Linked DNA regions of Homo sapiens. The protein of the gene in region 2 interacts with the protein of the main gene of each other region in a biochemical or structural test. Each region holds a gene or a part of one and is shown on either strand. Other genes may lie near its edges. The genes, in order: BMP2, ACTR2 and CTTN.

Region 1 (4,276 bases), on a different chromosome or scaffold from region 2:
CTGTAACAATGTAGGATGTTTGTAAAAATATTGTTTCTCATGTGAGCTTCCAAGAGGGTCAGAGTGTCTGATTATAAAATCTCTGAAACTAAACTGAAAATGCCAGCATCTATACATATGTACTACATATTACATACATCTTTAGATGTATATTTATGTATTTTATGTTTTATATATTAAATACGCATATGCAAGATAACACATTTTAGTCGACACCATTGAAAACAGTTTTAACCAAGAATATTAGAACCAATGAAGCAGAGAAATCAAAAGGGTGGATGGAACTGCCAAAGGATGAAATTCTTGTGCTATACTCTCATGCTCTCATCTAGAGAATGTGAATATGAGAAAACATGGGTCATTCGTTTTAACATGTTAAGACCGTGCAGTCTGTCCTTCATGTCCATGGCAATAGAGGGTGAAGAACAGCTGGAGAACAAACAAGACCCCAATCCCCTCAGTTGGGTATGATCTAATGGTTCTCACCTAATCAAGAACAATAGAACTAGAGATAAAAAGGAGCTGCAAGATTTTAAAAGTTAACCAGCATTAGTAAAAGATAACTGTCATGCACATTTAAAGATAAGGTTTACATAACCTCATAACCTCCGAACTGTAACTAAGCTCATAGTCATCAAAAGTTAATTCCTAGGAAGAATTTGATTATAACAGTCTGTTCCATTATAAACACACTGTTTTTTAGCCAATTCCAAGGAGATTAGAGGTAGGTTTCACCAATCATGCATGGCAGGATCAGAGGGGATGCAAAGTCCTGGAAACTGACCTAAAATACTGCCAGTAAAATAGTGGGTAGTTGTGGGTGCCCTGCTCTTATGAACATCTGCTGAACCCTTCCTTGGTCTGATTCTAACCCAGGGTACAGAAGCCCTGACACTCTGGTAAGTGTTCAATCTGAGCAGCCTAATTTGACTTCATTCTGTTTGGGCGTCAGTCCAACTGGCAGATGTTCTTATAGAAGCTGATCTCCGACACTTTCCCTTTCTAATTTTCTGGCACCGTTGCCTCTGTTGCATGGGCTATTATCTCTGAAACTTTATCTCGGGTTATCCAGGTTTTGCTTGTTTTGTAGGCTTTAGTTTTCCCTTAAATCTTTCTGCCCCAAAGAAGTTCATTTGAAAAATACTAAATCACTGGTAACACCTTTAGTGCAAATATGACTTATCAAATAACTTGCCTGCAATTTTCCAGCCATTCATTACCTTTCCCCCACCCCCTCTAAAATATATAACTTCAGAAACAAAAATGCAAACACAAGGTCATCATTGTAAGCGCTATACAAATGCACCATTTTCTCTTACAGGTTGGACTTTATAGAATGAAATGCCAGAGATTTGATATTTATTATCTGAAATAGGTTTAACATTTGGAGAAATGTGTTCAAACACACAACCTTGGAAAGAAAAGCAAGCTGATAGGTCAGAGAACAGAGGGTGGGCAGAAAACACGATGTGCATAATTTTGCTGCGTGTTGGGCAAAAAGTTAGAAAACTGGGTTCTTTGGAGAATAAAGAGCTCTCAGATGAGGTAAAGGTAAAACACAAATAAATTTCCAACCCTTGATGAGGGCCACGAGATATCAATTTTAAATATATATGACCACAATATCAATAATGAAGAAATCTTACGTTTTATTGAATACTTTGGCCAGATCAGCCCCTTTGAAGGGATCACTAATTTAGGAAAGAAGAACAACAAACCATCATTCACTTTCCTGCAGGTTCATCGTTTTCCTAATTATTTCTATGGATCCTGCTTTATTCTTTCTGTAAATTAAGGGGCAGGAGGAGAGTTTCTATAATAGATCAGCAATGTCTGGTTCTTATCCAAATATTCCACCTAATAAGGATGTAAATTCTCATGGATTGGACAATCACTCTGCAACATTCCTGAGAATTGAATAATATAATAATCTTGAAAGTCAGCAGAGTGGATTATCCACTTTTTTTTTCTGGACTTGAACTTGTGAACTCAACAGTAGCACTGCAAAAAAGCAAACGTGCTAAGCACTTTGCCAGAGTAACCTTCCATGTAGACTTTTCATCTTAAATACACACAACTGAAAACAACTACAATTTTTGGAAAATTATGTACAAACCCGATACTTCTTTTGATTACATATAAATACAAATTAGCTATTTTTTTCCTAAAAAGTGGTTATAATAGTAAATAAATACAAAATAAATCTGACCATTATACTTCATGTGCTGGGGTTGAACCCATATAAAATGTACAACTAAATACATTTTAAATCTTTAAGGAATAATTCTCTGATTAAAATATTTGTTTTCCCAACTTCTTTTCGTAGATATAAATATATTTTCAAAATAGCTGTTTTTTTTTCCATTCCATTCCATAAATAAAGTCTTCATTGGGAAATATTAAAGTGTCAACTGGGGTGGGGTTTTTTTGTTTGTTTGTTTTTTTCTTTTTTCTAAAATATATATATATATATATATTTATGTATTTAATTTTGCTGTACTAGCGACACCCACAACCCTCCACAACCATGTCCTGATAGTTCTTTAATACAACCTTTTCATTCTCGTCAAGGTACAGCATCGAGATAGCACTGAGTTCTGTCGGGACACAGCATGCCTTAGGAATCTTAGAGTTAACAGAGTTGACCAACGTCTGAACAATGGCATGATTAGTGGAGTTCAGATGATCAGCCAGAGGAAAAGGGCATTCTCCGTGGCAGTAAAAGGCGTGATACCCCGGGGGAGCCACAATCCAGTCATTCCACCCCACGTCACTGAAGTCCACGTACAAAGGGTGTCTCTTACAGCTGGACTTAAGGCGTTTCCGCTGTTTGTGTTTGGCTTGACGTTTTTCTCTTTTGTGGAGAGGATGCCCTTTTCCATCATGGCCAAAAGTTACTAGCAATGGCCTTATCTGTGACCAGCTGTGTTCATCTTGGTGCAAAGACCTGCTTATCCTAACATGTCTCTTGGAGACACCTTGTTTCTCCTCCAAGTGGGCCACTTCCACCACGAATCCATGGTTGGCGTGTCCCTGTGCAGTCCACCGCATCACAGCGGGGGTGACATCAAAACTTTCCCACCTGCTTGCATTCTGATTCACCAACCTGGTGTCCAAAAGTCTGGTCACGGGGAATTTCGAGTTGGCTGTTGCAGGTTTTATGATTTCATAAATATTAATTCGGTGATGGAAACTGCTATTGTTTCCTAAAGCATCTTGCATCTGTTCTCGGAAAACCTGAAGCTCTGCTGAGGTGATAAACTCCTCCGTGGGGATAGAACTTAAATTAAAGAAGAATCTCCGGGTTGTTTTCCCACTCGTTTCTGGTAGTTCTTCCAAAGATTCTAATTTGATAGAGAAAAACAGGGAAGAAAAAAGAAAAGTCTGAATTTCAGTAAGCCAAGTAATGACGTTTGATTATCTATGAGAATTTTTAAACCTCATCGTGGGATTTGATGTAACCCATGTAAAAGTAGGTAACCAGAAAATAAAAATTTCCTCTTTAAATAAACATGGAGCCTCCCTTCTCTCTGTTCTGTAAGTTCATGTCATCATGCATTGCATACCAGGAAACAACCTTTCATAATTCTTTGTTGTGTTTTTGATCTAATACATGAATACTGCTTCCAGGTGGCTATAATAATGGGGGAAATGGTGAAGCATTTCTTTGGAATTCCAGACTTTAGGGTAAAAAAAAAAAAAAGTCAGCACTATAGTTAGTAGAGGTCTAATGAGTGAGGATTTGAGGAAATTATTGCATTTCTTTTTTAAAAAAGGCTTTAATGCCAATCCCTTAAGCAGTATTCTAAAACATTACTCTGCAATTTAGATGATTTACAAATCTCGATATACAGATTTCAGCTTCCTAATTAAAGACTCTGAAACTCAACATCAACGATGACATTTTGCAAAGCACACCCTACTATTTTACTCAAAAGTCCAGAGACAAAGGCATTTACAGGGATCTACTTCTTTGGAAACGTATGGGTGGTACTAGGACACTGTAGTAATTAAGGCCAAACAATTTCAAGAGAAATAGCTTTCCCAACTGTTGTCTGTTCTCTCACCTCTTTATGACCTCAAATATCAAAATCTCATTTTAGATGCTTTTGGAAGAAAAATAAATGACCTGTCTTCTGTTTGCAATGCCTTTATAGTTTTGAAAGATAAACCATGTTAAAAAACCATGTACCTACCCAGTAATAGTGTGCAGGATGGACACAAAACCAAAAAAATAATAAAAATTTACAAAAATATGATTATGATCTCCATGACA
Region 2 (8,215 bases):
ACAGCCATGAGCCACCATACCTGGTCAAAAAAACTTTTTTTATTTATTTTTATTTACATATTTTTTTTGAGACAGAGTCTCACTCTGTCGCCCAGGCTGGAGTGCAATGGCACAATCTCAGCTCACTGCAACCTCTGCCTCCTGGGTTCAAGCGATTCTCCCGCCTCAGCCTCCCAAGTAGCTGGGATTACAGGCACATGCCACCATGCCCAGCTAATTTTTTGTATTTTTTTTTTAGTAGAGACGGGGTTTCACAGTGTTAGTCAGGATGGTCTCGATCTCCTGACCTCGTGATCCACCCACCTCGGCCTCCCAAAGTGCTGGGATTACAGGCGTGAGCCACCACACCCGGCCTAAAACTACCTCCTTTTTAAGTGGATATAATTCCTTGATGCAATAAGCCTCATAAAACTCATATACAGCCCTTGAATGTTGTACTCTTTTAAAAAGAAGAGGATTTCCATTGCAAAAAAGAAAAAAAAAAGGAGGAATTCACACCATCATCAATTCAAAAATACTCCCAGGAACACTGACTAATGCAAGAATTTACATTTTATTTCCCAAAGAGCCCTCCCTACCCACCTCACCTTATTTTCTACCACTTCCATCAGGTCACACACATACTGGCCTTTCTCCAAACACACTTGACCCATTTCCAGTGCCACACTCTTTTCCCACTGGATTATCCCCTGAAGTGCCTAAAAGACTCCTTGGCACATATCTGACAGGCCCAGACATTCTCAGTAAGTTCCTGTTGAATTTATAAGACCATAAAAAAAAAAAAGAGCTCTCCCAACGTGGCCAATATTTTATTTCCAATAAAGAGGGAGGCAGTTGCTAATGGCAATATCAAGAGAATATATAAGTAGTCCCCTCCATTAAACCCACCTCAAAAGTTAGAAATGCACTCCCAAATGTTTACCTTCTCCTTTTTAATCTACTATATATTTGACAGGCATGATTTTATGCTACCTTTTTGAATCTCTGCGTATTTTTTTTAACTCAAGCCAATTCTGGGGACAAATTCCATGCATAAAAAATTAAAATAGCTATGCCAGGCACGGTGACTCATGCCTGTAATCCCAGCACTTCAGGAGGCTGAGGCGGGCGGACTACCTGAGGTCAGGAGTTTGAGACCAGCCTGACCAATATGGAGAAACCCCATCTCTACTAAAAATACAAAATTAGCCAGGTGTGGTGGCACATGCCTGTAATCCCAAATACTTGGGAGGCTGAGGCAGGAAAATCACTTGAACCCAGGAGGTGGAGGTTGTGGTAAGCCAAGATTGCACTATTGCACTCCGGCCTGGGCAACAAAAGCGAAAATCTGTCTCAAAAAAAATTTAAATAGCTTAAAAGAGAGAATATCCTATTTTTTAAAAAATAAGTCTTTAAGCCTTTTTTTTTTACCTTAAATACATATTTAGCAAATAAAAATGTATATAAAATCTTATTTCACAAATTTTAAAAACTGAAAATATTTCAAAGTGTGGTATATAAATAATGTAGTTTTCTGGGGCTTATAACTTATTGAGAAACCAAATTCTCTGACATAAAACATACATAATAAATGTTTGATGAAGTGTTTTTTCTAACAGTTAAGCTTAACCTACCTTGAGCGTACAAAGTCAGAACTGCCTGGATGGCTACATATACACCGGAAAACTGGTAAGTTTCAAACATTACCTGTAAATGCAGACAGAAAGAAAAAAACTGGTATTTAGAAAATTACATAATAAATAAATGTTTTCCTCATGGTCACAGAGTGAATTAATTGCCCAAAATAGAATCAAATGGACCTGAAATAGTCTTCCATTTTCATCAGCTCCTCTTATTTCTTATTGAAGTCCTGCTGCCACAGAGCTCCAAATCTGAAGACAGATTTCTAAGTCCCCAAGCATTTCATAAGCGTGACAAAGCAAAGATTTCTTAGTGTATTAGTTAATGACTAATTAGTGTGAAAGAAAGCTCTCTGTATTGAACAAGACTTTCTTAATTGATATCCCTTAAGGGAAATTCTTTTTTTTTTTTTTTTTTTTTGAGATGAAGTCTCACTCTGTTGCCCAAGCTGGAGTGCAGTGGCGCAATCTTGGCTCACTGCAACCTCCACCTCCAGGGTTCAACTGATTCTCCTGCCTCAGCCTCCTGAGTAGCTGGGACTACAGGCATGCACCACCATGCCTGGCTAATTTTTGTATTTTTAGTACAGACAGGGTTTCACTATGTTGGCCAGGCTAGTCTCGAACTCCTGACCTCATGATCCACCCACCTCGGCCTCCCAAAGTGCTGGGATTACAGGTGTCAGCCACCACATCCAGCCAGGGAAATATCTTTTTTTTTTCTTTTTTTGAGACGGAGTCTTGCTCTGTCGCCCAGGCTGGAGTGCAGTGGTGCCATCTCAGCTCACTGCAACCTCCACCTCCCTGGTTCACGCCATTCTCCTGCCTCAGCCTCCCGAGTAGCTGGGACTACAGGCGTACACCACCACACCCGGCTAATTTTTAGTATTTTTAGTAGAGACAGGGTTTCACCGTGTTAGCCAGGATGGTCTCCATCTCCTGACCTCATGATCCGCCTGCCTCGGCCTCCCAAAGTGCTGGGATTACAGGCGTGAGCCACCGCACCCGGCCGGGAAATATCTTTTAATTCGAAGACAAAATATAGAAATTGCTTTACAGAGCCTCGTACCCCCTCCCTCAATCTGGGCCAAGAGTGTAGCTCTGTCTACCCTGAGCAGCTTAAAAATTAAAAGAAAGAAAGAAAGAAAAAATAAAAAACCCAGTAAAATGCCACGGCAAAGACAAAAATCAATGGTTAATTCCTGATTGCTGGAAGATACAGAAATGGCTTAGCTGCTGAGCCCAGTCCCTACTTGAATCAAGACTGTAATTACAACCTCCAAATGAACTACCCTGGAAGGAGGAGTTCTTTCCTTTTTGCCCTCACTGGTCACACACATGTTCATTCTCTGTAGCCCAGGTCAGCTGGGAACATCCTGCATGATTTTTTTTTTGGTGATCTTGACTGAGCACCCCTTGACTGGTAGGGTTGCCTATCACTCTGAATATCTAAATATTTAGAAATTTTACAACTGACCACAATGAAAATTACACAGAATTTAAATTCTACAACTCTGAAACACATACTCATCAATTAAGCAATTAGATAGTCTGAATAGTATTTTATTCCATCATCCTTTATTCCACCTCCACAGGGATGAAAATGGAAGAATGATCATATATATGCACATACCAATGTGAAAGCATGTTAATGAGATTAAGGTAGGACACTATCAGTCATAGACATATTTGTAGTCATAAACAAATAAGAATATTAAAATATAAGCCATAAGAAATCATATGGATTCTTTAAAACCATGATCTTAGATTTTCAAAACACTTAATACAAAAACTGAGTTTTAATACAGGCTTTAAAAATACTAACAACATTTTCTTCTAAACCCTTTCAAAAATTTCCATCAACATTTAAACATATTCGTAAACAAAATATGTACATTAAACAGTAACTGGAAAGCTACAGAAGTTATTAAATTTCTACTTCATATATACAAAAATAAAAGAACCTTGAAAAATTACTTATTTAAACTATGAGGATCATAGCTCTCTTGCTCTCTCTTTCCTCTGTAACTGCTTATTTCATTATTTCATTAACTTTTTTTTTCTTTTTCTTTTTTCTTTTTGAGACAGAGTCTCGCTCTGTCGCTCAGGTTGGAGTGCAGTGGGGTGATCTCAGCTCACTGCAACCTCCACCTCCTGGGTTCAAGCAATTCTCCTGCCTCAGCCTCCTGCGTAGCTGGGATTACAGGCGTGCACCACTATGCCCAGCTAATTTTGTGTTTTTAGTAGAGACGGAGTTTTGCCATGTTGGCCAGGCTGGTCTCAAATTCCTAGTCTCAAGTGATCCACCCGCCTTGGCCTCCCAAAGTGCTGGGAGCCACCTAGCCCGGCCTCAATAACGTTTTCAATCTCCTTCTGCTGGCTCCTCCTATCTCTCTGGTCCTTGGCCTTTTCACCACTGTCTACCCTCTTCTTTGTTGAACCGTATCATTTATAGCCCTACCTTCAAAACAGACCTATAATCTGGTAATTTCTCACTATCTCTACTACTACTACTTCAATCCTAACCATCATTATCTTTTGCTTAAATGACTGAAAAAGTCTCCAACTCTTCTATCTTTGCCTCCTTGTGGGATACTCACAACACAAGAGAAATCTAAATCTGAGCATCTCCTTTTCCTGTAACAGCCCCATATTTCACCCACAGTAAAAGCCCAATTCCCTTTTTTTCTTTTTGAGACTGAGTCTCACCCTGTCGCCCAGGCTGGAATGCAGTGGTGTAATCTCGGCTCACTGCAGCATCTGCCTCCTGGGTTCAAGCGATTCTCCTGCCCCAGCCTCCCAAGTAGCTGGGATTACAGGCACGCACCACTATGCCCAGTTAATTTTTGTATTTTTAGTAGAGATGGCGTTTCACTATGTTGGTCAGGCTGGTCTCGAACTCTTGACCTCGTGATCCGCCCACCTCGGCCTCCCAGAAGTGCTGGGATTACAGGCCTGAACCACCACTTCCAGCCGCCCAATTCCTAATTAGAGCCTACAAGGCACCAATATTACTTACTCGACCTCATCTTCTGTTGCTCTCTCCTCAACCACACTGGCTTCCTTGCTTATTCTTTAATATACCAAGCTTGTTCCTAACTTAAGACCTTTACACTGGCTACTCCCTTTATCTGGAATACCATTCTCCTATATACCCTGGCTAACTCACTTACCCTGTCTGTTTAAACATCACCTTCTCACAACCTATGTACAATTACAACCTCCCACTCCCCGTTAACCTGATTTATTTTGCCTTTAGCATCTACAGCTGATCCATGAATAACAACAAGTTTGAACCACACAGGTCCACTTATACACGATTTTTGTCAATAAATCTTTCCTGCCTCCCCTTGCACCTCTTCTGTCTCTGCCACCCGAGACAGCAAGACCAACCCCTCCTCTTCTTCGTCGGTGTGAAGACAATGACGATGAAGATCTTTATGATGATCTACATCCACTTAAGGTATAGTAAATGTATTTTCTCTTATGATTTTTTATTTTTTTTTGAGACGGAGTCTCGCTCTGTCGCCCAGGCTGGAGTGCAGTGGCACGATCTCCACTCACTGCAAGCTCTGCCTCAAGGGTTCACGTCATTCTCCTGCCTCAGCCTCCTGAGTAGCTGGGACTACAGGCACCCGCCACCACGCCCGGCTAATTTTTTGTATTTTTAGTAGAGACGGAGTTTCACTGTGTTAGCCAGGATGGTCTCGATCTCCTGACCTTGTGATCTGCCCGCCTCCGCCTCCCAAAGTGCTGAGATTACAGGCGTGAGCCACCGCGCCCGGCCATGATTTTCTTAACAGTATTTCCTCTAGCTTACTTTATTGTTAAGAATATAGTATATAATACATATTATGTTATCAGTAAGGCTTCTGGTCAACAGTAGGCTATTAGAAGTTAAGTATTTTGGGTGGTAGTTAAGTTTGCACGTGAGTAGGGAGGGTTGGTGCCCCTAACCCCTGCATTGCTCATGGGTCAACTGGATCACTCACCTTCTAACAAACCATTTAATTAACTCTGTAACTGCTTATTGTATTAGCCTTTTCAGTCTCCTTCTGCTGGCTCCTCCATAAAAACTTAATTAACTTAATTAACTCACTAAATTAAAAACTTAATTTTTTTGGTCTGTTTTTCCCTGTTAGAATATATACACTCCATGGCAGTAGGATTTTTTGTTTACTGATCTATCCTACTTTCCTACTTAGAATAATGACTAGCATATAGTAGATACTTAATAAGATCTGAAGGAAAACAATTATTTTTATTCTCTTTATCCATAGCAACAGTAAGAAAATTTTTGATTTAACATAATATCACAGAAATACACATATGCATATCCTGCATAAAAACTCACCTCTACAATCTTCTCTCTGTTTTTGGTTGGGTTCATAGGAGGTTCTGTGAGTAAGATTTTACAATTTCTGGTATCTATATTAAGTTTCTCTGGTCCAAATGTGTAGTCCCACAGGTGTTTCATGTCATCCCAATTTCGTACTATGCCATTTTCCATAGGGTAGTTAACTTCTAACATTGATCGTAATTCACTTGCCTCATCACCAACCATAAGATCCTAGAAAATTATGTCAAAGCTGTAGATCAAAGTTTTGCATAATATTTAAGAAAACTTGGGAATAATTAATTTTAATATTTCTGACACTTGCAAAATAAATCTTTTTATTCCACAAGTTAGAAAATCTTTTCTATCAAGAACAATGTCTTAGAAAGTTTAATCATGGATAATACATTTTTACATACAATGTGGTTTAAATCAATAAATTGACCTTACCTTTAACACAAATGTTTCCAAAAGAAGAGCATTAGCACAAATAAACCCCACATTTTCATATTTTGGAGGGTTTTGTATGAGGTTTCATCTGTTTCTTTTGCTCAATTGTTCAAAAAATAAGGCCTGTGATATGTGAAATAGCACATCAGGGGGAAAAAAACTTGTAGAAAAATGCTCAATGCATGCAGCACATTTCTTTGCACTAAATATCAAAATGATAAATGTAAGTACTATAAAGCATAATGAAAGAAGCAAAAAATAAAATGATTCTTTATTACTCTATAATAATGCATACATACACCAACTAATAAATAGCACAAACTTCTATCTACATATGCCTGAATAAGAATTTAAACTGTTTCTACATATGCCTCACCAAGGTGAATGAGAATTTGTAGAGTTATAAAAAATTAAGATATAGGCAAATAACCCATCCTTTAAAATTGTCTCCTGAGCAACATTTTCAATCTTAAAGTATACTGGAAAACTACACCATCACACATGAAGCATAATACTCACAAGTCTTGTCTCCAATGAGAGCATACTTAAGATGACCCACATTTGAAAGTCACATTTTCTATATATAATAAGTAAGGATGTCCTAGCATTTAGACTTATTTTTAGAGAACAGCTAGTCAAGAGGTTAAATAATACTAATTTCTACATATGTTGATAAATTCAATTAAAAAAACTAGTATCAGAAGTAGATATTTGCTACAATACGTTAAGTTTTAATTATGGAGAGACAAAAAAAAGCAGCAGCAAAATTAACACGAGATTATTTTTTTGAGACTGAGTCTCGCTCTACTGCCCAGGCTAGAGCGCAGTGGCATGATCTCAGCTCACTACAACCTCTGCCTCCCAGGTTCAAGCGATTCTCCTGCCTCAGCCTCCTGAGTAGCTGGGATTACAGGCACCTGCCACCACGCCTGGCTAATTTTTGTATTTTTAGTAGAGATGGGGTTTCACCATGTTGGCCAAGCTGGTCTCAAACTCCTGACCTCAAGTAATTCACCCATCTCGGCCTCCCAAAGTGTTGGGATTACAGGCATGAGCCACCACACCTGGCCAACATGAGATGTTTTAAAACAAAGGCTTAAAAATATATGAGTTTTAAATTAAAAAAAAAAGAAAAAGAAAATATCAGAGATGAAACCAAGGTGAGGACTCTAACAAAAAACCAAACAGATCTCTGGAAAATCCACTAAAAGCATCAAAAAGTATAACAAAGTTAAAAACAGATGCTAGAAATGCTCAGTAAAAATTTGTTGCAATTTCTTATGAAGTTCATTTACCATAACTTACTAACTTATTACTCAAATATCTGAAATATTAAATGTTTACACTCTTTTTTTTTTTTTTTTTTGAGATGGGGTCTCACTCTGTCACCCAAGCTGGAGTGCAGTGGTGCCATTATTGCTTACCACAGCCTCAACCTCCCCAGGCTCAGGTGATCCTCCCACCTTAGCCTCCCAAGTAGCTGGGACTACAGGCTACATGCCCAGCTAATTCTTGTATTTTTAGTAGAGACAGGGTTTCACCATGTTGCCCAGGCTGGTCTTGAACTCCTGGGCTCAAGGGATCCGCCCACCTCAGCCTCCCAAAGTGCTAGGATTATAGGCATGAATCACCACACCCAACCGTTTAGATTCTTCTATGAGGAATATGCAAAACTAAAAATCTGTATTTGTGAATTCTAGTTAATAACATGCACATGTTGAAGTATTCAGGGAGAAGTATACTGGTATCTGCAACTTACTTTGAAATCCATCAAAAAACAAGATGCACTGATGAATGAACAGATGAACAG
Region 3 (8,215 bases), on a different chromosome or scaffold from region 2:
TGTCCAAATGTCAGCCTGAGTCTCTTCTCACCCCTCCCCCTCTGGAAGCCCCTCCTTTCCCAGGTGGAAGTTTGGGGTTTGGAGGGGACTCTGTGCAGAGGCAGCCTGCTCTCGGGGCCTGCTTCTGCTTGGCCAGCCCAGCCCCGCTCACCCAAGCCCCTGGGCTGTGGAGAAGCGCTCCCAGAGAAAGATGCCAGAAGTGCACCCCTGGCAGGGGCGGAGCACGAGCCTGTGTCTGGGTGCTTTGGGTCTAGCCTGGGTGGCTTGCCACTGACAAGGACTTTCCTTGTGCTCAGCTGGATCAGGGGGGTTGTGAATAGAGCCTGAGGCCTACAGATGTGTGTGTGTGAAGTTACCAGGTGTGGTTCTGCAGCTGGGGCATCTGCAGTGTGGGGCAGGCCCAGCCTGTCTGGAAGCCTGGGCTTCTCCTATCCACCCCAGGCCCTGCCCCTGCAGGGCCACACAGGACGTGCTACTTTGGGTGTTTAACCTGTGGATGGCATCAGGTGACGTGGGAATTTACAACTGTCCTGTTGGGGTCAAGCAAGGCCATAGATGCCAGGAACCGTGCTAGGGTCTCAAGACCAGGGGTGGTTTTCTCTTCAAAAAGACAAGACAGCACTACCATTGTTCCCGTTAGAGCAAGGCCGCCTGCAGAGGGAGAGGAGGGAAGGGGTTTGGAGTGGACACCTGGGGTTCAGATCCTGCCTGGGCAGCTCCCTGGCCAGTGTGCCTGTGCCTGCCACCTCACCCTCAGACTCAGCGTCTGGCACTGGAGCCCACAGGCTGTCAGTGAGTTTCCTGTTGCTGCCGTAGTCACCACCACACACAGCACACAGCTAGTGTCTTATAGCTCTGGAGGTCAGAGGTCCTCAAAGATGTCAGCAGGGCTGTGTTCCTCCTGGTGGCCCCTCGGCCCTGTCTTCCCATCTCCAGCCTCTGCTTTTGTTGTCACCGCCCCTCCTCTGTCCCTCACACTCCTGCCTCCCTCCTCTCAGGACCTTGTGATTACATTGGGTCCACCCAGGCAGTCCAGAGTTCTCCCCATCACAGAACCCTTAGTTTCATCACATACACAGTCCCTCCCCATGGGGTCTGGGGACTGCGATGTCAGCAGCTTTGAGGGGCTATTATCCTACCCCAGTTCATCCTTTGGCCCCTAAAGCTTCATGTCCATCCCATGTGCAAACATACTCAGCCCATTTTAAGGTCCCCAAAGTCTCAACCCATTGCAGCATCAACTCAGACTCCCAAATCTGTGCCTAAACTATCTAATCGTGTGTGGGCGAGAATGAGCTGTGGCCCAGTCCCGGCACTGTCGCGTCACTGGCTGTGTGATCTCGGCCTCAGAGCACACCTGCCCCTCGAATCCTGCCTAGGTGCTGGTGGGATCTGAGGCTTGGTGCTCCAGCTCCCCTGCCCCTCGGATCCTGCCTGGGTGCTGGTGGGATCTGAGACTTGGTGCTCCAGCTCCCCTGCCCCTCGGATCCTGCTGGGGTGCTGGTGGGATCTGAGGCTTGGTGCTCCAGCTCAGCCTTGGTGTGGGTGTTTTCCACTCCTTTCCCCAGAGCATGCCTAGAGCTTGCACACGATCTTCTGAAACACGGCAGGCGTGACAGTGCAGAGTGTCATGGCAGCATTCTGATTGCTGTTTGTTTTCAATCACAGGAGCAAGCCAGAGCCAAAACGCAAACGCCCCCTGTGTCGCCCGCACCTCAGCCAACCGAGGAGAGGCTGCCCTCGAGCCCCGTCTATGAGGTTGGTGTCTTTGGTGTTTGAATGAGCGTGAGTGACTTACTGCCAGAGCCCAGGTCCTGTTTGTGGAGTGGAGGAAGCCCTTGCAGGCAGGCAGTGTGGCGTGGGTGTAGAGGGCATCGCTGCATTCCACGCCCGGAGAGGGGTGGGCCAGGAGCGCCTGGGGGGTGGGTGACATGCCTCAGTGCTGTCAGGGGATAGCTGTGCAGGCCCACATGCCATCCTTTCACCCCTCTGCAGCCTGTTGTAGTCTGGCCACTGTCACTGCAGTCCCTGCTGTAGTCACCTGCTATCAGATAATCAGATGGGGGTGTCTTCACCCCACTTGCTCTCTGCTGTGCAGGACGCCGCCTCACTCCCTAATGGCAGTGCTGCCCTCCTTCATCACTGAGCCCCTGCCTCCCGCACAATCTGCCTTCTATGCCTGCCCCATTCAGCTCTCCAGCCTTGCAGCCCCTCATGAGTGTGGCTGCAGACATGCTGTCCGGCCCCTCCCTGTGCTGCTGACCCCCTCTCATGGGTCCCCCAGTGTTCCGTCCCCATCCCTGAGTTACGGAGCCGCCTGCCGATGCCCCGCCCATCCCTGACTTTGGGTCTCCTGCTCCCCGCCAGCACCTCTGCGCTAACCACACCCTCTACCTGTAACCACCTCTCCTGTCCCCAGCCCTTGCCCTTTCTCCATCCCATGGCCATCATCCTGGTCTATGCATTCATCTCTGCTCGCCCAGGAGCCAGTCAGTTACAGGGGTCACACTCCAGACCATGGTAGTTCAGGAGCCCAGAGAGAGCCCTGGAGACAGGCCGGGTCTGGGATCTGGGCCTCGATGGCCGTGGCCTTGTCACCACCCGACTGTCCCTCCTTGGCTACGCTGCTGCCTGCTGCCTTTACCCTGCCGGGCCCTGGGGGGATGTGGTAAGTGAGGCCTTGCAGCTTGTCAGGAACCGGCCTCCCCCTCTAGTCCCTCCCCTTGGCAGCCAGCGCCATCTGCCTCAAGGAAGCTCCGACCCTGCCCCTCCCGTGCAGTTCAGCCCTTGTGTGGTTCCTGGTGCCTGTGCTGAGGGTGGAGTCGCTCTCCCTGCCCGATTACTCTCCCTGGCTAGCAGCTCTCCACCACTGGCTCTTCCCAGATCTCCTGGGTGCGCGGTTCTGAGCTGTCGGCATTGCTTTCTTTCAGTCACTGCCGGTGACATCAGGTGGACCCTGGTCAGAAACATTGATTAAAGCCACTGTCGGTGATAAGCAGTTCAGAATTTTCGCTGGGGCTCCGAAGCGGCAGTGGTTATAGATAGAGAGGTGTTCCACTGCGCACCTTTGTAGTTGAATGTGATTCTTTGGCGATGCCCTGTCTGTAGGCTCAGCTGCTCTGGAGCCACGTGGTGAAGCCGCTGTCAGGCAGGGCCAGGGTCGAGCAGCACAGGCAGGAGGGTGGCCGCTCGGCCCAAGGGTGCCTTGTGTGGCCTTGGAGATGAGGCCTAAAAAAAGAAATCAGCCAAATTAACCCAACAAAGACAGGCTCTACCCCCAGGCAACAGTGTGGGCAGGGGCGTGTCTCCTAACCTGCTGTGTGGGCGTGGTTATTGCAGGACTGGAGTGTCGGTGGTGAGGACCGGGTCATCATCGGGAAGGAAATGGCATGTGGGCACTCACCACCATGGTGAACACACCGGCAGGCCTGGCCTTCCTATACCGCGTCTGTTTTCTCAGTCCTGGCTGGGACTGAGAATTAGATGGCCCGTGGGTTTCTGCTGGCTGTGGCAGTACAGCTACTGCTCTCTAGAAGCCAGCATGGGCCCCGTGCCATGTGCGTGTGACCCTTCCCCAGGATGCGGCTTCCTTCAAGGCAGAGCTGAGCTACAGAGGCCCTGTGAGTGGGACGGAGCCGGAGCCCGTGTACAGCATGGAGGCCGCTGACTACCGAGAGGCCAGCAGCCAGCAGGGCCTGGCCTATGCCACAGAGGCTGTCTATGAAAGCGCAGAGGCCCCGGGCCACTATCCCGCAGGTACTGGGGCCCCACGCTGCAGCGCCCTGCCCAGGGCAGGGAGCTCCCGGGACATCCTGCTCGACCTGTGGCGTCGTTGCGAGGAGCGTGGGTTTCCCACTGACACGCCTTTGCTTGCTTGCTATAGGGTCTTCTTGTCCCTGGAGGGAAGTGCTCTAGGCACATTTGGGGCATCGGCTCCTGTGCTGGGTCCCAGGAAGATCCCCATTGTGCTGGGGACGGGTGGGCAGGGGCAGAGGAAGGGAGGGTTTCAGCTGCCGCCCTGTGTCCTTGAGACAAAATCTTAGGAAGTGTCGTCTAAAACTTGAGAAGGCTGGGAACCTGTGTGGGACTTTGTATTGTTCAGCTCTGTCATGGCTTTCTTTTAGAGGACAGCACCTACGATGAGTACGAGAACGATCTGGGGATCACAGCCGTCGCCCTGTACGACTACCAGGCTGGTGAGCGGCCTGCAAAAGCACTTGGAGGGGAGACCCAGGCAGCTGCGCCTGCCTCTGCTTGTTTTCTGAGAATTCACTTCTCTAGCGTTGTTAGTTTTAGAAGTAATTTATGTTGAGATAATTTCAGAGATATAGAAAAGTTGCAGGTATAGTGCCAAGAACTCCCATGTTCCCTACCCGGATTCCATCTCTGCACACACACGCACACACCCCCTGTTATCTTTAGTATTCTCTGAACCCTTGGAGAGCTGCAGGGGTGCTGCCACCCCCAAAGACTCCAGCGTGTTTCCCAAGATCAAAGATGCTGTCCCACAGGGACACCCCACCCTCCAGGTGAGGGGGCCGCACAGATGCCTTGATGTTCGAGACCCCATTCCTGCCTGTCCTGCCCCGGCCGCCAGCTCCCGTGTGGCCTGCACGTTCCCCTGAGTTCCCTTTGCGGCCTTGGCAGTTTAAGAGCAGCCTCAGCTCCTGGGCTGGCCTCAGCCGCCCGCCCCGTGTTCCCTCAGGGCCAGGCTGAGCTGTGCTCTGGTGGCGGTGAGGTCTTGGAGACCATGCGGTGGGGCTCTCTGCTGGGCCGCATAGCATCCACTTGTCCCTCTGTCTCAGCCACCACCTGGTCCACAAAGTCACCACCACCCCTCTGCAGTTGACAAGCATCTTACGGGTGGCGTGGGATTCCCCTCAGAACCCCCGGCCTCTGCCTCTTGAGTGCTTCCCGTTTGCAACTTTCCATCAGCGCGGAAGCTGGCATTCTACCATAAGTGAGCGCTGGCCGTCCCCGTTCAGTGCCTTTTGCACACGTGCATTTGCGTACACGCATGTGGGTGTGTCTGTGGCATCTCGGCACCTGTGCGTGGATTCTCATCACCGTGGCTTTTGCCCTCCATTCCCATTTCAGCCATCACCTCGGGCTTCTCTCCGGGTGTCCCCTGGCTGTCCTTCCACTGCGGCCTCCGCAGCCCATCTCCCCACCCCCTCCACAGACACGTCTGCCAGAGAGAGGGGAAGGGAGGGCAGGCGGGGCTGGAGTTATGTGGTGGAAACCTGCTCCTGAGGAAGGGGTCCGGGTGGGGTTGGTGCTTGTGTGAAGGGCTCTGTGCCTCTTTGTACTCTCTCGGTTCATGTTCACAAATCCTGGCCTTGGTGGCATGGGAGAGGCAGCAGGAGCCTCCGCGGTGGTCCGCATCTCTGCAGGGGGCATCTCTGAGCAGGCTGCCTGGGAGCTTGCTCTGGGTTGTGCTTTTTTTCTGGCAGACCAGGAAACGCTTGCACTTCAGCATCTTTCTCTGTGTTCTCTTCCCCAGCGGGCGATGATGAGATCTCATTTGACCCTGATGACATCATCACCAACATCGAGATGATTGACGACGGCTGGTGGCGCGGGGTGTGCAAGGGCCGGTACGGGCTCTTCCCAGCCAACTATGTGGAGCTGCGGCAGTAGGGCCCCCAGCCCCCCCCCGGAGCTGCGCCCTGGATCCTCACACTACAGATCAGGCCTTCTTTGGTTCTTGGGTGGTTTTGGGTTTTTTCTGTTTTTTTTTTTTTTTTTTTTTTTTTGAAGGTGGGGAGGGGAATATACACATTGCTTTTATATTTAATACTTTTGCTGATGCTTTTGAAAATGTTTATGCCACAGAATTTGCTAATATATTGTAATCACATTCCTTAGGAGGACTTTGGTAATTGGTTTTATGCATTGATGGTTTTTTTTTTCTTTTTTGCCAAATTGACTGTCACGCGGCAGCTTCAGGGAGCTCGCATTCTCTTGTGTTCGTGTTGCCCTCGTGCCCATCAAGTGCAGTCGGGACCTCCCAGGACAAGCACGAGGCCTCAGGTCGGCCCTGTGGCGGGTAGGCAGGAAGGACTGTCCCAGACGAGGGGCTTCCTCTAGAGTCTCACTGCTGGGGAGGAGAGGACTGGGCCTGATGGAAGTTAACCCGGAGCTAAGTCACCCAGAGCACAGGAGCTGCCATGTCAGATGGGAAATCTGCCTATGTCATACCGTGACAGCCCGCAGGATCAGGTGACTTCTAGCAGAGACCCTGGTTTTTTTCCTGTGCCCACTCCGGCTTGTCCTCATCTCTACCCATCCCCTGATGCCCAGGTCACCGGGAGGGCTGCTGGGAGCCTCTCCTGTCCCCGCCGGGCAGTGTCACTGAGTCCTTGAAATCCTCCCCTGCCCCGCGGGTCTCTGGATTGGGACGCACAGTGCAGTTGAGGTCTGCGTCGGGCTTGGCTTTTCACAAAGGCTGATGTCTTAACTGTCACCCATATGGTCCCTGGGCCACCGGGCAGCCTGGGGCGGTGTGTGTGCCATGTCACAGCATGGCCTCTCGGCCTTGGGAAGGAAGGCAGTGCCTGCTCTGCTGTGAGCCGCCAGGAACCCTCCTCCTGTCAATGGGGGTGTAGTATTTTTGCCAAAATATCATGTTCAATTTCAGTAGTTTGATCAGTTGAAGGCTAGAAGTGTGAAGTGCAGATGAGTGTGTGTTCTTCCCCAAGGTCCCCCCACAGCTCCAGGACACCGCTGTCCTGGCATTTGTGGCCACTCACTTTGTAGGAAACTCATCTCCTTCCTGAGGAGCCGGGAGGCTGGACCAGTCCCGTCGTGCAGTCAGGTGGGCGGTGTGTCTTTCCAGAAGGTCACGTGGAAATGTCTCGGGACTTGGGTCCCGGAGTGCCCGTGAAGCGTGTTTTTGCTCCTGAGGTGCATTTTCTCATCATCCTTGCTTTACCACAATGAGCAATGAGGTCGGGTTTTATATGCAACTTATTGTATCTGAATTCCTGTAGCACACCTCATAGGTATGATTTTTTTAAATTAAAGAATTCAGAATAAACATTTTTTGATCCACTTGCGTGATTTGCTTTGGTCTGTGGTCACTCCGTTCTGCAGTGGAAGCTGCGTCGACACTCTCGGTGTCCTGCGCCCCGGACCTGGGCTGGCGGAGGCTCTCCTGCCGTCCAGTGCGTCTCACGCGTTCTGTTCTGGCTTTAGACCGAACCGTACGTTCCCTTTTCAGTGTTCATTCAAAGGTGCTGCTTATGAACTGAAATGTGTTTACTCTGGCAGATGATTCAGTTTTTTGCACAAAGGTTCCAAGCAAAATAAAACACTCTGTGCTTAAAAGTCATTTCTGAATTACAGTTCTCAAATCCTGAGGGGGATTTTGCTCCCAGTCTCGTTTTGCTCAGGGGCACCAGAAGTTAAAGGCTAAGGGGAACAGTGGCACTGAGGGAGCAGGTGTGCCCTCGGGAGCCGGGGGTGCTGGGGAGCTGGGTTCCGGCTCACACTTCTGCCCATCAGGTGCTCCCAGGGAGCTTTCGGCTACACGACATGCCTGCTACCCCTTCCAACCTGGGTGGTGACGGAGCACTGCCTCCTCCCTTGGGCTGTCCCACACCTGCCTCTGGCTTAGGAAACAGTGCCTCTGCCAGCTCTGCCCACAGGAGCCTAACGTGAGAGTGCCCCCGCCCTCCTGCCACAACCGGGCTGCTGTGGGTTCTGCATCACAGGGTTGCAGCCCTAACGGCGAGCCCCGTCCCACACAGGGCCTGTCTGCTGGGTGAGATTGCAGCCACCTGCAGGGAGCTGAGTCCTGAAGAAATGAGGCATGAAGGCTTGTGAACCAGGGGAAAGTCCCAGCCAGGGTGGGCAGACGGGGTCAGGGGGCTGGAGGACAGGGTGTGACGAAGGGAGGGGGCCATGCAGAAAGGGCCCCCGCTGGCCCACTGTCTGCCCAGTCGGTGTGTGCCTGTGCCGCCTGCGGATGAGCATGGCAGGGGCTCAACAGGAGCGGGACACATCTTGAGTGGGTCTGTGTTTCTGTTCTATTGGTGGCCAAGCGTGGCCTGGCAGCTTGAGTGCCTGGAGCCAACCACCTGAATCTTAGCCGCTTTCTTTTTAGATGTGGTTGGGGTTTTTTGTTTCTGTTTCTTGAGAAAGGGTCTTGCTCTTTCGCCCAGGCTGGAGTACAGTGGCGTGATCTCCGCTCCTGCAACCTGTGCACCCAGGG

Evidence for each region.
Region 1: the proteins of ACTR2 (region 2) and BMP2 form a complex in vitro, tested with the Homo sapiens proteins (one study listed by BioGRID).
Region 3: the proteins of ACTR2 (region 2) and CTTN form a complex in vitro, tested with the Homo sapiens proteins (one study listed by BioGRID).

What each region holds. Positions count from the first base shown.
Region 1 is NC_000020.11:6,777,313-6,781,588, reverse strand, and holds the end of BMP2 (bone morphogenetic protein 2 preproprotein), read right to left. Parts: intron 3,345-4,276; coding exon 2,500-3,344; 3' UTR 1,343-2,499; downstream 1-1,342. UniProt on the Homo sapiens protein: Growth factor of the TGF-beta superfamily that plays essential roles in many developmental processes, including cardiogenesis, neurogenesis, and osteogenesis. Induces cartilage and bone formation.
Region 2 is NC_000002.12:65,244,498-65,252,712, reverse strand, and holds part of ACTR2 (actin-related protein 2), read right to left. Parts: intron 6,190-8,215; coding exon 5,974-6,189; intron 1,687-5,973; coding exon 1,614-1,686; intron 1-1,613. UniProt on the Homo sapiens protein: ATP-binding component of the Arp2/3 complex, a multiprotein complex that mediates actin polymerization upon stimulation by nucleation-promoting factor (NPF).
Region 3 is NC_000011.10:70,429,523-70,437,737, forward strand, and holds the end of CTTN (src substrate cortactin), read left to right. Parts: intron 1-1,668; coding exon 1,669-1,758; intron 1,759-3,578; coding exon 3,579-3,756; intron 3,757-4,124; coding exon 4,125-4,196; intron 4,197-5,503; coding exon 5,504-5,640; 3' UTR 5,641-5,943; coding exon of another isoform or gene 5,944-6,222; 3' UTR 6,223-6,759; coding exon of another isoform or gene 6,760-6,886; 3' UTR 6,887-7,053; downstream 7,054-8,215.